Linked DNA regions of Homo sapiens. The protein of the gene in region 2 interacts with the protein of the main gene of each other region in a pairwise test. Each region holds a gene or a part of one and is shown on either strand. Other genes may lie near its edges. The genes, in order: ARHGEF6 and GIT2.

What was found.
Region 1: the proteins of GIT2 (region 2) and ARHGEF6 interact in binary tests that used the Homo sapiens proteins (3 or more experiments, as listed by UniProt).

The regions. Positions count from the first base shown.
Region 1 is NC_000023.11:136,679,624-136,687,687, forward strand, and holds part of ARHGEF6 (rho guanine nucleotide exchange factor 6), read right to left. Parts: intron 6,201-8,064; coding exon 6,054-6,200; intron 3,222-6,053; coding exon 3,135-3,221; intron 2,346-3,134; coding exon 2,267-2,345; intron 1,254-2,266; coding exon 1,108-1,253; intron 50-1,107; coding exon of another isoform or gene 38-49; coding exon 1-37. UniProt on the Homo sapiens protein: Acts as a RAC1 guanine nucleotide exchange factor (GEF).
Region 2 is NC_000012.12:109,985,980-109,994,043, forward strand, and holds part of GIT2 (ARF GTPase-activating protein GIT2), read right to left. Parts: intron 5,782-8,064; coding exon 5,648-5,781; intron 3,824-5,647; coding exon 3,711-3,823; intron 3,090-3,710; coding exon 2,984-3,089; intron 1-2,983. UniProt on the Homo sapiens protein: GTPase-activating protein for ADP ribosylation factor family members, including ARF1.

The DNA.
Region 1 (8,064 bases), on a different chromosome or scaffold from region 2:
CCAAGGGTCCTCGGGGCTGTCCGGTAGAGCTAAAAGACTGGGAAAATGTCTGATGAGATGTTGGCAATCTGCCATCTGAACCCGACCTTGTGCCACACAGTGAGAGAACAACAATAGCTTCATTGGATTAGCAAAGACAGCCATAGAAAGGGATAGATGGAAAAACAAAAGTCTCTAGTTTGAGAACTGGTTCTTTCCAGTCCAGATTATCGGGTCTCTAAGAAACAGCACAAAATTGACTCAACATTCCATGATCCTGTCCTCTCTTTCTCATCTGGAATTTAATTAATTTAATTTTCTTTCCTCTGTAAGGAAGGAAAATGGAGTAGCAGTCAACATTTGAGTTCAGTGATATGTTTGGCACTCTAGTAGGTGCTTAAATAGGTTATTTCATGAGAACAGCCTAAGACATAGACTCAGTCAAGGGAAGCAACTAACTAGTAATTGGCAAAGCCAAGATTTGAACCCAGATCTGAAGCCAAAGTCCATATTCTTCCAACCACAACACACAGTCCTCAAAACTGGAATTTTGGCATCATAGGTTTGTATGTTAACAAACAACACAGCATATCTTCCATCTCACTCAGCAAGTACAGTAAAATCTCATCAATTCAAATTCCAATGTCTAAATTTGTGATAACTCAGAAGGAGATAATGCTAAAAGTTTACCTTTGAAGAAGGTTACTGAGCAAATGTGAGAGCATGAGTGAGATGACATGGAGATGTTTAAGTACTTAGGGAGGTAAACTATTTGTTTCGACTTAGCCCACTGTTAGTAGGAGAATAACCATTGCTCATGGAAATAAGCCTTGCTTATCATTAAAATATTTTAGCAGGACTTCTGGTTAGAAATACTTTGCTAGCAGTTAGTTGGGGTATCTGAATACTGTCAAACAGAACTGCACACTCTAAGTAAACCTTTTCATTAATTTGGATGGGCCTCATAATGAGAAATCAGAATGAGTGAGGTTTAACTGTACTTCAAAATCTACAAATATAGGCTGCCCAAAAGACTAAGGGTGTGCTCGCTGCTTCTTGTAAGTCTCCAGCAGGCAGGAGTTGACGAAAGACTCAATAATCTCTGGACAGAACACATGGACTACTTACAGAATGAGCACTACATGATGACGATGAGGTTTTGGATAATGAACTGCAAGAGGCAGGTCCTCTGATCAGTCTGTTCAGCTGCTCCAACCATTCCTGGAAGTCCTGGTTGTTGTTACAATGGACCACAATTCTCTCCACTGTGTTACCTACATCCCCCAATTATGATCAGTTTGAAAACAAAAGGCAAGGAAAAACTTGAGCTTGTCCCATTCATAAATAGACTTCATACAACTAGGACTTGGGTGTGTATTTTCAGGGGTTTTCATACCTATGGGATAACCCTGCTGAAATTTCTATATCAGAAACAGATAACCTGTGATTACAAAGTAAATAAATATTCATGTCTGATTTAGAAAACTGTCCTTGATTTTTACTGCTTACAGAAGCTTAAAAGTAGTGTAAAACTTCACCATAAACAAACTTGCAATCCAAAAACATAAGCACATAGTCCATCTAGTTAAGTCTAAAGTGGGAATATTGTCCTGGTTCCCCTGGTATCAAAGTTGGAACAAGATCCAACTAAGACTATTTACAACCTTTTGGCAAACACCAAACCTTAAGCTCCTTCTTGGGAAAGAAGAGGGTAAGGCCATGATCCCAGTCTTAGCCACTGTGCCATATCAGCACCAACAGTCAGGCCACTACATATAAATGACACAGACCTGGCAAAAGGGATCATAAGCTAAAATGTCAGGGGGCATTACTGAAGCCTGGCATTATGCTCAATTTGTGAAGAAAATTTGATGGCTTTTCAGAACTTTTTAGAAATACAACCAAATCTTACTAACTCATGGGCTGATGATAAAATTGCTGATAAAAGTCCATATCTTTGGCTCCTCTGCCACCAGGGAACAAATGACAGAGGGGAAGAAAATTGCGTTTACATCAGTCCATTTCGTTATTCCTTAGCTCTCACAAGTAGCTCTCATGCAACAGAAAATTGAAACTAATGGCAAAGCCATGGCTTTTGAATGAGAGGAGACTTCTCTGTGCTATTGCTGTACCCTAATTATCCCAGGAAATGGAATATACTTTGCCATGCCCGCATAAAATTTGCTCGTGGCCTATGTAACAGGAAATAATGGCATTTATTTATTAAATTCCCCTTCATTCCAAAAAGAATTGGAAGTAGTTACATGAAAAAGAGAAAATTACCTACCAGTGATTTCAAATGTGCAGTCATTCCCTTCAATTTCATCTAATCTAGTCACCACCGTTCCTGCTATTGGTATTTTTCCCTATTAGAAAAAGAACATTCTCATTAATTCTGCAGTTATACAGGTCTCTGTTTATTTCACTTAGATTTTCTGACCCTCTCAGCAAGGCAAAACTATGGCTAGACGTATTTCTCCAGTCTGTCAATAGATAATATGTTTCCCTGCTCTAAATTTTAATCAGACTAAGAAAGCAAGGGGAAAATGTGGATTGTGTTTGGCTAACACACCCTAAACTATAAGATCAGGATTTACAAAGCAGTTTACTTTTCTAACACATTTTCATAAGAATCAGTAAAAAAAAGTGAAGGCTCAGATGTTATGAAAATTATTAATTGCCAGGCCAAGATGGAACAGGCAATAGTAACTTATAATACTCTATATGTTGGGAGCTGACTGAGGGACATTTAATTTCCTAAGGAGTTTAATAACATGCTTCTTAGAAGCCTGAATCATGTGCTGTGACTATAATAAGACAAACATAGGAGCAGGTCCCAGCTTTATGTTTTCTCAGCAATAATGACATGGGCCTGTACAATACTGCTGCTAATTTATCTAGTTTCCATTTATGCATGCAAAACCTAGTGCATAACTAAAGCGGTGGATATATTCAAGATAAACTCATTATACTAATACAAAGGTCTTTGATCTAAGGAACATCTGCTCTTACAAGCTCTTTAATTACAATGAAGGGTCAGAACATTCTGGTTCTCCTGGCTTGAGCTTTTAATGCCATAGTGGAGATATTGCATCTGGATGGAAACCTGTTTTCGTTAGGGGGTCTGCTATGTGTTTTATATGAAATTTACTAACCTGATAGATAAAGCCACTCATCCGAGGACTTGCAGATAACATTATCAGGACATTTGAAAATAACATAAGGTACCGCTCCTCTTTTTCCTGAGAGGGAATGAAAATAATACATGAAGAACAGAATTGGACACTTTATCTGTTGAGAATTTCTGGAATCACTGCCTTATAACATAGACCTTATATAAACAACTGAAACATTAACGGTAATTTTTTTTTTAAAAAAGATACCCAACTTGAAAACACAAAACTAGTTGAATTTTACTTTGACATGGACATAAACCCACAGTTTATCTCTCTTCTTCTTATACATAACAATTAAATACAAATAACCATGCTTGCTTTCCATGTATGAAAGCCTGAGAAGTCACCACAGTTTATGCAGCCAGTGAGATGTGCTAGACCTGGGCACAAAATAAGTCTCCAGGTTCACAAAATGAAAATATATTTTACTTTGAAAAAATGGCAAGATGAAGGGGTTTTCAGGTGATAAGAGATTTAGTATGCTCTAACATGTTTGTTAAAGTCGTATTCATAAAATTAGCTTTGGTCATTAAGAACAAGATAATTATTGGATTTATGTAAAACATAAAAGTAGATACACTTTCTTTTTTTTTTCTTGAGACGGAGTTTCGCTCTTTTTGCCCAGGTTGGAGTGCAATGGCACGATCTCGGCTCACCACAACCTCCACCTCCCGGGTTCAAGCGATTCTCCTGCCTCAGCCTCCCAAGTAGCTGGGATTACACACATGTGCCACCACTCCCGGCTAATTTTGTATTTTTAGTAGAGATGGGGTTTCTCCATGTTGGTCAGGGTGGTCTCAAACTCCCGACTTCAGGTGATCCACCCACCTCAGCCTCCCATACACTTTTTAATGGCACTGAGGAAACCTTGAAACGTGAGGGCTGCTGTGAGCCCCTTCAACAGATATGCAATTAGTATACGCAAAAATTACGTTTGCCTTCCATGCCCAGCCATCTTAGCTACAATTATCCTTATGCCTGTCTCCATCTCCTTCCTTCCATTTGAGAAGAGCAACCCTTCCAGGCTAACTATTCTAACAAGTGCTCCACATTCTCTCACATCTTTGTTTCACTTAGTTTTCCTCTACAGACACCTCTTCTTCTCCCAGCATCCTCTTCTCTTTTACTAGCTGTTCCTCTTTTTCTTTAACATATGTACACCTCCTATCCTAACAGACCTTGGCTTGCCCCCATGTGGCCCTTTATGCATAATATCCCATTTCTTGACATTTTATTGGCAAATTACTTGCTGCCTTCATTTTCTCTGCATTGATCCATCCCTAACTGCACCCCCATTGCTCTTGGAAAGTCATCAGTAACTGCCTTCTAGCAAAATCCAATGGCTTCCTCTTGGTCTTCACATTCCTTGCCCTCTGAACCTTCAGCAGCAGTCAGCACACTGGCCATTTTCAAATGCTCCTCGTGGAATTTCCATGACACCATGCTCCCCCAGTTCTTCTCTACCTTCCTCTTTGTCTTTTTATTTTTTCTGGCACTGATTCCTCCTGCCTTCACCCAAGGGGTTTATCCCAAAGGTGTGAATGACTAATAGTTAGACTCACTGCAGTAACCTTCCCTGGGGTATTTGCATTTTAAATGAGATTGCTTATTAACCCAAAGTAATGAATCTCCGCCAAAGACGTGTCAGAGAGCGTAGGAAGATGTTTTGGGAGAAGGAAGACAATTCTAACACCCGATACATCAAACCAGGTGCCATAATCAACCTTTCTCCCTTTCCCTGGCTCCTTCCTAAAAGAAATAATCCATCTTCAGCTCCCCCCACCCCCCGGGCTTCTCTCTGGATATTTACTTCCTAGGAAGGCACATCTGTTAGGGACATCTAAGTCTCTGCCTCTAACTCTGACCTCTCACTCACATTTCCATACTACATTAACAGCTGCCTATGGGACATCTCCACCCAGATATCTACAGGTCTAAAATTATATTCTTCATCTCCTCTAACCCAGGGGCACCACTTCCTGTTGGCTTTCCCTTCTAAAGATGCCTCCAATTTGCTCCTTCTGCTCCATTCCCAGTGTTACCACCGTCTTAGGGGACTCCTTCTCACTTTCCATCCCAGCTGGCCTTTCTGCTTCTCGTCCATTCCCTCCAGTTCATTTGACATATATAGGTCGCAGATTAGTGTGAAACATCCCTTTCGGAGTGTTGTTCTATGACTGTGGACTCTTTCATTATTTCCCATGGCCTGTTGCATCCATCTGAACTACTCTTGCCTGATGTCAAGCTTCTGCATAGTCTAATTCTACCTGACTCAATCAATCTTTTACTAGGGCCAAGTTGCTTCTTTTGCTCCCTACAGGCTGGTTTCCTTACTGTGCTGCAGCAAACCAAAGCCACATTTCTGTTCTCTCCTAAGATAACAATGACCTCTGCCTTGCGAAATCCTCCCCTTTTGTTTTTGTGCCCCCTCCTCAAGTCCTGTCTCCGTAAGGTCTTCTTGATCTCTCCCTCCTGTGAACTTCTATGGACTCTTGTTGAGATTGCAAAATCGAACATTGACTATTTGGTTTGTCAGCTAGTTGCAACTTGTGTTTTAGTCTGTTTTTAATGAGTTCTTTGAAAACAGGGATCATTGCTTGTTCTTTTCTCCTATCTCCCACAGCACCTAGCAGAATGTTCAACAAAGAACAGGTGCTCAGCTTCTGATTTGAATGTTGTAGCATTTGACTTTGATGGAAGAACAAGGAAGAAAAACTACTTAAGAGGCTCAGGCAGGAGGATTGCTTGAACCCAGGAGGCAGAGGTTGCAGTGAGCCAAGATGGCACCACTGCACTCCAGCCTGAGTGACAGAACAAGACTCCGTCAAAAAAAAAAAAAAAAAAGGAAGAAAAATACGAAAGATGGAAGAAATAATGTTGAGATTTGAAATACCTTACCTCACATGCTCCATACTGCACCATTACTTGTGACATAAAAATCACATTTCCCAAGTTTTTAATATCTTCTCCTTCCCATGCCTGAATAGGTTCGGACAGTATCTGTAACTCCAGCTGTTTTCTCTTCCTCAGATCTTGACATTGCCCCTACAGAACCAAAGCAGAACATAATGGAATAGGAATTCTTATGAAATAGACTAAAATAAGACCAAAGTAAGATGTGGCTTCTGACTCTTTGGTTCCCACTGAGTCCCTATTCCTCATCATGAATCCCATGACCCAGGCCTGTTCTTGATAGACAGAAAGATCCACTACCCTAAATCTCTAGGCTTGAGCCCCCAAAGGTTTTGTGAGGAAGGCCTATTTTTCATTTTGCCAAAGCATCAAAACATAATGCTAGAAAGAGCTTATTTCTCCCTCCCTGTAAAGAATATGGGAAAGCAAGCAGCCAAATCACACTGACCAGAGCCAGGTGAGGACCTGGTAGATTCAGATCTACTGGTTGGTGCCCCTGCTTTAGCTCCTCTTACCTTGTCTATCTTTGCATAAATAGGGCTTTAGTGACAAAATAATTGTATTTCTAACATATGCTCAATTTTCAACAAGGTAACATCTTGAAAATAATAAAAAACAAAAAATTTCTCCTGGAGTTATAGTGAAAGAGAAAATTAAATTCTTTATGCCACAGTGAATCAAACTTATAATGAAACCTAGGCACTGCTGTACTTTGTTTAAGGACCAAGATTGCTGTGAAAAAAATACTAAATTAGTTTTTATTCCTAAAAGGATTGGAAAAAAGAGATACAACTGAATTTCATGATGACATACTGAAATTTCAAACCAAGAAAAAATTACAGTTTGCCAACACTATGTGGGGTATGAATACTCTTTCTATATATATGTGTGTGTATGTGTGTGTATATATATATATATATATATATATATACACATATATATATATATATACACACATATATATATACACATGTGTATATATATATACACATATATATATATACACATATATATATACATATATATATATATATATATATATATATCTCACTGCTTAAGAAACTGTGAGGTTATCTTAGAGTAATTTAACAGCATGCCTTCCAAATTGAATACAAAAATAAGCACATGGTTAGTTCTGTTACTGTTTCCAAATGAATGTAAGATAATATTTTGGGGTTATATTTTCTATAAAATCTCTGCTGTCCCTTTCAGCTACATGGAAACTCAAAGAAATAAATTCACTGTACACATATTTTAAGAGCACCTATAGTAGGAATAAATATACTAAACCATCAAGGCAAGTTATATAATATAATCAGAAAGAAATACAGGTTTTTAAAAAGACTCATTTTACATTCCTATTTATACAAGAAAAAATAGAAGAACCATAATTATAATAAATGCTGTGGGTTTCACTGGGCTGTTCTATTAGCTTGCGCCATGTAAAACTGCCAATATTGGACTGTTTTTGGCATATAACAATGGCAATTTTAATCTAATACTTACTCTGGTCTTCAACTTACTGTTCAACTACAGACACGTCAATTACTGATCTTTCAACAAGGATTAATAATTAAACATTAGTCCAAATCACTTATAATGCTACAGAATTGTGTGAAATGAAGCTAAGTTTAATCAATTGCCCAAAATGAAGTTTTCTTTCCTCCTAAAATGGCACCAAGTGGTTTTATATCAGTGGGTTCAAGAAGATACATTAACCATCATACTGAAGATACAAGATCACGTGTACCTTTGATAGCAACCTATATAAAGCACTTGCATTTTAGTTCTTTAGGTTTTTTCCCCCCTTTTAGATTTGATGAAGGATTTCTTCTTCATATGCAAAGAAAAAACTCATACCCTTTGGCATAACTAGTTGAATCCAGTATTGATGCAAATCAGTGAATGATGAGTTACACAGACTCGTCATTAGGTGAGCAATGGGGGTAAAGACAAAGAGACAAAAGGAAACCCCCCACCTACACACCAATGCTTA
Region 2 (8,064 bases):
CCATGATTGTGCCACGACACTCCAGCCTGGGCAACAGAGTGAGACTCTGTCGTTTAGGCTGGAGTGCCGTGGCATGATCTCAGCTCACTGCAACCTTCGTCTCCCCAGTTCAAGAGATTCACAGCTGAATTCTACCAGACATACAAAGAAGAACATCCTACTAAAATTATTCCAAACAATCAAAGAGGAGAGACTCCTCCTTAACTCATTCTGTGAAGCCAACATCAGCCTGATACCAAAATCTGGCAAAGACACAACAAAAAAGGAAAACTTCAGGCCAAAATCCATGATGAACACAGATTTTTTAAAAAACTCTTAACAAAATATTAGCAAACCAAATCCAGTAGCACATCAAAAGTTAATCCACCATGGCTGGGCGCAGTGGCTCAGGCCTGTAGTCCCGGCACTTTGGGAAGCTGAAACAGGCGGATCATGAGGTTAGGAGTTCGAGACCAGCCTGGCCAACGTGGTGAAACCCCGTCTCTACTAAAGATACAAAAAATGGCCGGGCGTGGTGGCTTACGCCTGTAATCCCAGCACTTTGGGAGGCCGAGGTGGGCGGATCACGAGGTCAGGAAATCGGGACCATCCTGGTTAACACAGTAAAACCTCGTCTCTACTAAAAATACAAAAAAATTAGCCGGGTGTGGTGGCGGACGCCTGTAGTCCCAGCTACTCAGGAGGCTGAGGCAGGAGAATGGCATGAACCCGGGAGGCGGAGCTTGAAGTGAGCCAAGATTGCGCCACTGCACTCCAGCCTGGGCCACAGAGCAAGACTCCGTCTCAAAAACAAACAAACAAACAAACAAACAAAAAAAAACCAAAAGATTAGCTGGGCCTGGTGGCACGTGCCTGTAATCCCAGCTACTTGGGAGGCTGAGGCAGGAGAATCACTTGAACCTGGGAGGCGGAGGTTGTAGTGAGCCAAGATCATGCCATTGCACTACAGCCTGGACTACAGAGCGAGACTCTGTCTCAAAAAAATAAAAAATAAAAAATAAAAATAAAAATAAAAAAATTAACCCATCATGATCAAGTAGGCTTTTTTGCTGAGATTCAAGGCTGGCTCAACATACACAAATCAATAAATGTAATTTGCCACATCAATAGAAGTAAAAGCAGGCCAGGCGCGGTGGCTCCTGCCTGTAATCCCAGTACTTTGGGAGGCCGAGGCGGGAGGATCACGAGGTCAGGAGATCGAGACCATCCTGGCTAACATGGTGAAACCCTGTCTCTACTAAAAATACAAAAAAAATTAGCCGGGTGTGGTGGTGGGCACCTGTAGTCCCAGCTACTTGGGAGGCTGAGGCAGGAGAATGGCATGAACCTGGGAGGCAGAACTTGCAGTGAGCTGAGATCGCACCACTGCACTCCAGCTTGGGCGACTGAGCAAGACTCTATCTCAAAAATAAATAAAAATAAATAAATAAATAAATAAATAAATAGAAGCAAAAGCAAAAACCACATGATCATCTCAATAGATGCAGAAAATGTTTTCTTTTTTTGAGACAGGGTCTTGCTCTGTTGTCCAAGCTGGAGTGCCATGGTGTAATCTCAGCTCACTGCAACCTCCACCTCCTGGGCTCAAGTCATCCTCCAACCTCAGCCTCCCAGGTAGCTGGTACTACAGGCACGGCCACCATACCCGGCTAAAATTGTTATATTCTTTGTAGAGACGGGGTTTCGCCATGTTGCCCAGGCTGGTCTTGAACTTCTGAGCCCAAGTGATCTGCCAGTCTCAGTCTCCCAAAGTGCTGGGATTACAGGAGTGAGCCATCGCACCCGGCCAAAAAGTAATAAAAAAAGTTCTGAATAAGTAAGTTCTCATGCTCTGTGTGAGTAAGCATTTATCCAAGGCAGCGCTTTGAAAATATGCACATTTCTTACAGCATCTCTCAAAAACATGCGAAGGCCCACATAAAGAAAACCACCTCACTCGTTTTACAAGTATCATAAACCATTCTGTGTACTATAGCTTTGAGTCACACATTGCTTTCTGAAGATCATACTTACTGTTCAACCTGGAAACCTGAAGAAGTCCCCTTCCTTTAGTACTTTTTCTAGTCCTTATTAAAAAGAAACAATTGTCCTATAATCTTTCTAGTCCCTTCTAGAAACAACTCTGAGATGGTTCCTATTTCAAAGTTAAACAAACAAAAAACTTATCAAAATATAATTTAAAAGCCATATTGGAAAAACACAAACAGCCTTCCAGAGACTTACTTTTCCTCTTTGCCCTGAACCTCCACTATATGAATGGCTGCCATTTGAATTCAGATTAAAGACGAAACCGACTGACAAAAAAGCTATTAATTAATGAATGTGCAGAAATGAGTTTTTGTTTTTCTTTCTTTAAAAACTTTTTTCAGCCTGGGCAACATAGCAAGAACCCGTCTCTACAAAAAATAAAAAATATTAGCTGGGTATGGTAATGCGCCTGTAGTTCCAGCTACTCGGGAGGCTGAGGTGGAAGGATTGCTAGAGCCTGGATGGTCAAGGCTGCAGTGAACCGTGATTGCACCACTGCACTCCAGCCTGGGCAACAGAGCAAGACCCTGTCTCAAAAAAAACAAACGAAAAACAAAAAAACCCTGGCCGGGTGCAGTGGCTCACGCTTGCAATCCCAACACTAGGAGGCCGAGGCAGACGGATCACCTGAGCTCAGGAGTTCGAAACCAGCCTGGCCAACATGGTGAAACCCCGTCTCTACTAAAAATACAAAAATTAGCTGGGCATGGTGGCATGCGCCTGTAATCCCAGCTACCTAGGAGGCTGAGGCAGGAGAATCGCTGGAACCCGGGAGGCAGAGGCTGCAGGGAGCCAAGATCGCGCCACTGTACTCCCGCCTGGGTAACAGAGACTCTGTCTCAAAAAAAAAAAAAAAAAAAAAAAGCCCACAACCAGACTTTTTTTTCGTTTTTTCAAATAAAACAATATGCTGTCTCAGCCCGCTCTTTTAGGGATTTTAAAAGGTGTGACCCACCTTGCTAAGATCTTTGGCAGTCACACTATCGTCATCCCGGCAGGGCAAGCGATGGACGAACGCTAACATCTGATACTTGGCTCTGATGAATTCCGCTTTATTGGGACTGGTTCAAAAACAAAAAAGAAAACAGTTCACTCGTTCAGATACAACAATCCCCATTCTTTGTACTGTAAAAAGAAGAGGAAGTGACCCACATCCCCCACTTGAGAATAAAATGAACAATGCTCAAGTAAGTTTCAGCAAGGTTTAAGACCTGCAGTTTGAAAACATACATTAGTTATTATAATGGCTGGGACTCCAGAGTACCTGCTTTTTATAGTAGCCCTCTTCTCTGTGTAATTGTCTGAACTGATTTAGCAACTTTGGGAGAAAGCAGCATTTAGTCCCATCTTATAAGTGAGGCAACAGGCAGACGGGTGCCCAGACCTAGATTTCTGGTCTGATCGCCTCTTATTTGAGTATAAGTTTAAATCTGATTACATTTACAGACTCCAAGCCATGGTTTCCAACTGAGGAAGCCACTTACTCCTGCTGGGTGGCCATGCTAAACAGATGGTCCTGCCCCACCCCATTCTGCATTTCTAATAGCAAAGAACCTGATGCACAACTAGGGTAACCCCCTCCTCTGCTGCCCTTGCGGAGACTGACCAAAAATAGCTGCACTCCTTTCAGTGGGCCCCATTTGTTATGAAGAAATAAAAGTATTTATAAACATTCCACTCACTGTACTTTATCCTGTGGATTAGCTTTACGTCTTCCACTCATAATAGACGCAGGGTCCAGCAAAGAATGCTCCCATATAGAGTTAGCACCGTTATTATACAAGGTCTCAACCATCTAAAACCAAGCAGGATGACATAAGACTTTAATTTCTTTTCACAAATATTCAATGGGGATCAGTGACTGAACAGAGTAAACAAAGTCCTGTTATAAACACTCATTTGTTAGGAATATCATTCATATCATTGTTTTCTGATTTGAGAATGAGAAAGATGATCAATCTATATGCAGGATTCAGCTTTGACTAGTAGGATAGTTAAATACCTAAAGTGTGACTGAACTGTTCTTATTCTGTATGAAAGAAAAAAAAGTACTCTGACACCTTAGAGCAGGGTTTCCCAAACCTAATTAAACACTATTTTCAACATTCTTAATGACCCATGTACTGTCTATATTATTCACTTAATATTTGTCTTTAAAGCCACTTACTTGTAAAAACAACTACAGTTTGATGTGCTAGTTATAGCTTTCCCATACACAGTAAAATAATGTAACCATTAAAAAAAACATGTATTACCTACATCTGTCTTGAATACCACTGGTGGTTCCACATTTGGGGAATTGTTGCTTTAGGGTCAACCCTGGCATTCTAAACAACTCATCTCTGGACTTTACTGAGACTCTGTACTACAATCTGGCTTTGCAAACACAGACAGACCTGAGAGCAGTAAACAGCCCCTTTCACATGAGCGTGAGCGGTTAGAAACTTCTAAGCAAAAGTTAGTAATAAATCATATCTCCAAATTTCATTTCAAGGCATGACTCCTAAAACAGCCCCATCTGTTTTTTACAGCAGTGTAGTTATTTTCACATCAGAGATACAAACCCACTTGTTTTGGCTCCTTGGTTCACACAGCCAAGTTTAAGGGATATGTGCAGCTGTCACAGATTCAGTGAAATGTGTAATCAAGACAAATGAAGGCAAAACACACACTTAACCTTGAGTTCCAAGAGAACTTGAAGAATGTGTACCCCAAGATAGAAGTAAAGGTGACATGACATTGGACTCCAGATAAAACAAAGAACTCATTTAACAGGGTATTCTACATGCAATCAAAACATATTAATTTAATTTGGTCTCTCTGACTAGTAACAAGAGCTTTAAGAAAACTTAAAATGTTTCAGAAGTTTCTGAGGAATCCCAGCCCATGCTGCTATCAAAGCAGAAAAACATGTTCTAAAAATATTAGCAGGTACTCAGGAATAAGTACATTAAAGAAAAGATTCTCAGGCAGTAGCCTTCAGAAACATTCATTATCATGCATAGAAAAGATGGACTACTGGCCGGGCGCGGTGGCTCACGCCTGCAATCCCAGCACTTCGAGAGAGGTTGAGGTGTGGATCACTTGAGTTCAGGAGTTCGAGACCAGCCTGGCCAACATGGTGAAACCCCTTCTCTACTAAAAATACAAAAATTAGCCGGGCATGATGGCGGGTGCCTGTAATCCCAGCTACTTGGGAGGCTGAGGCAGGAGAATTGCTTGAACCCGGGAGGCGGAGGTTACAGTGAGCTGAGATCACGCCACTGCACTCCAGCCTGGATGACAGAGTGAGAGTCCGTCTCAAAAAAAAAAAAAAAACATTTCCGATGACAGTCTAGAAAGTCAACAGAGCAACAGTACCAAGATATTTTAATGACTATTCATCTATCTACCTATAATTGAGCTTGTTGAACAAGATTTATGTCAAGTAGGAAGAAAAGTCTTTACTGAATTCAATACAGATAATATTTGTAAATAGCATTGATGGGCATGCCATCTCTATTCAATTATGAAACAGTTTTGTCTTATGGAAGAAGTACACCAGGAGAAATTTAAGTTATTAACATGATGAGCCCTAAAATGTAAATTACCAACTGTCAGGAGAATTCTTATCCTTTACCTGAAGCAGTGTTGGAGGCCACGGTGTGTGTTTCAGATGCCTCACTTGGGAGATATGGCGCCCTAGACTCCGATGGACACTGCAGCACTCATCACATAAAAACGTTCCCCTATTTACTGATGCCCAGGAAGGATCTGGAAAGAGAGTGAAATCTCAGTGGCAGGGATACCAGCAGGTTGCTATACCGCCAGATGGCAAAAGATGACTGAAGTTTGGTTTGTCAGAAAAAGGAGACATTTTTGTTTCAGTATGCTCATCAATGCATCAGGCTGGTCATCTTGTTGGATGGTATGACCTACCTTGGCTGATTAGGTACAATGTTAATTGAGACTAAAAACACCAGTGGGAGCCTTGGGTAAACAGTTATCTTCTTTCTGGTTCAGGGCCACAGTTTGTAGCCCTAATGTGGATCTACCATTTCAGATGCATGCTTTTTCATTCAAGCTAAGAAAGCAAATTGAGAGGGTACAGACGAATGATTTTGGATCCATCTCCATAAAAATCAAGATAATACTTTTTTTTTTTTTTTTTTTTTTTTGAGATGGAGTCTCACTCTGTCACCCAGGCTGGAGTACAGAGGCACAATCTTGGCTCACTGCAACCTCTATCTCCCAGATTCAAGCAATTCTCCTGCTTCAGCCTCCCGAGTAGCTGGGATTACAGGCATGCACCACCACGCCCGGCTAATTTTTGTATTTTTAGCTGAGACGGGGATTCATCATGTTGGTCAGGTTGGTCTCAAACTCCTGACCTCAGGTGATCCGCCCACCTCGGCCTCCCAAAGTGCTGAGATTACAGGCGTGAGCCACTGTGCCCGGCCAAGATAATATAATTTTGACAGTGAATTATGCAGATAGCATTTTCTGCAGTAAATGTTGTAGACTGCTGTCCTAATTCACTGCTATGAATCAACATGTCAATATGCTTAGCAGAAAGCTGCGAGTTACAGAATCATAAAATCACTCAGCTGCTATGGTTCTGAGGACAGGGAAACCTGGCCTCTTCCATTAGGAAATGTTCTATGATGTCCATGAATTGGTTTGTTTGTCTGTTTGTTTGTTTTGAGACAGAGTCTCACTCTGTCCCCTAGGATGGAGTGCAGTGGCGCAATCTCGGCTCACTGCAACTTCTGCCTCCAGGGTTCAAGCGATTCTCCTGCCTCAGCCTCCCGAGTAGCTGGAATTACATGTGTGTGCCACCAGCTCGGCTAATTTTTGTTATTTTTAGTACAGACGAGGTTTCACCATGTTGGCCAGACTGGTCTCAAACTCCTGACCTCAGGTGATCCACTCACCTCGACCTCCTAAAGTGCTGGGATTACAGGCTTGAGCCACTGTGCCCAGCCAATTAATTGTTTTACATAAACTACCAAGTCCAATCCTGCAACTGATCTGAAAAAAAAAAAAGAAGTTGCAATAACAGCAGCTTCACAGAGGCAAAGATGTAAAATAAAAATGAATAATATTTTTAGTGTGTGTATAATACTTTTTTCCCTTTAAAGTCATAGAGCTTCATTAGCTGTCCTTTGAAACAAGGAATAATTTCATACTTGGCAAGCAGGATGGATCTGGGTAAGTAAACTGAATACCTAGAAACCTCAAATAAAGAAAGAGCTATACTTCGTCAGACTCACAATGGGGTGACAATAGGTGCCACTTAAGCTGCCTGGTCAAAGGGTTACATTTAAAAATTCTTCAATGTCCACAAAAATCTCTAAAATGCATGTACACCATCTTTACCATTTTTTAAGAGTTTATTCAAACCCTTTCAAACCATATAATGAAAAGTTATGGGCTTTCAATCAAAGACGAATCCTGGGAGCCAGTGAGTATGGTGGTTAAGAGGGTTGGCTCTAGAGACAAGGAGTTCAGGGTTTGAACCCCAACTCTGCCACTTCTTGCACAATGATCTCAGACAAGTTACTTGAGTGTTTTCACCATGGTTCAAATGAGAACAATGACAAATCTCGGGATAGTAAGGATATAGAGAATAAGTGAAGTACCTCACACATAGTAAAGTAGTAATGTTAGTTGTTATATCTTTTCTAAATTATTTTCTCAGTATTCAGATATTTTCTAGACGTGAAATTCATGATCACTGGACAAAGTTTTTGATGGGAAATACTTAAAACATTGAACATTTCATGTGACCACTCTACTACTGTACTGAAAATCTCCATGGAGTTTTCAAGTAATTGAACTCAGAGTGTGATGTATTTGAAATGAACCAGATTCATTAAAAAAAAAAAAGTAGAATATTTAAGAAGATGTGATCATGGTTAAATGTTTGCATAAAATAAAACAGAATCAAAATAATTCAATTTAGTATAACTCTGTCGCTATTACTGTATCATCCTAAAAAGCAGAGATTGGAAATGTCCAGATGAAGGAGCTCTACAAAGATGCATTAACAACACT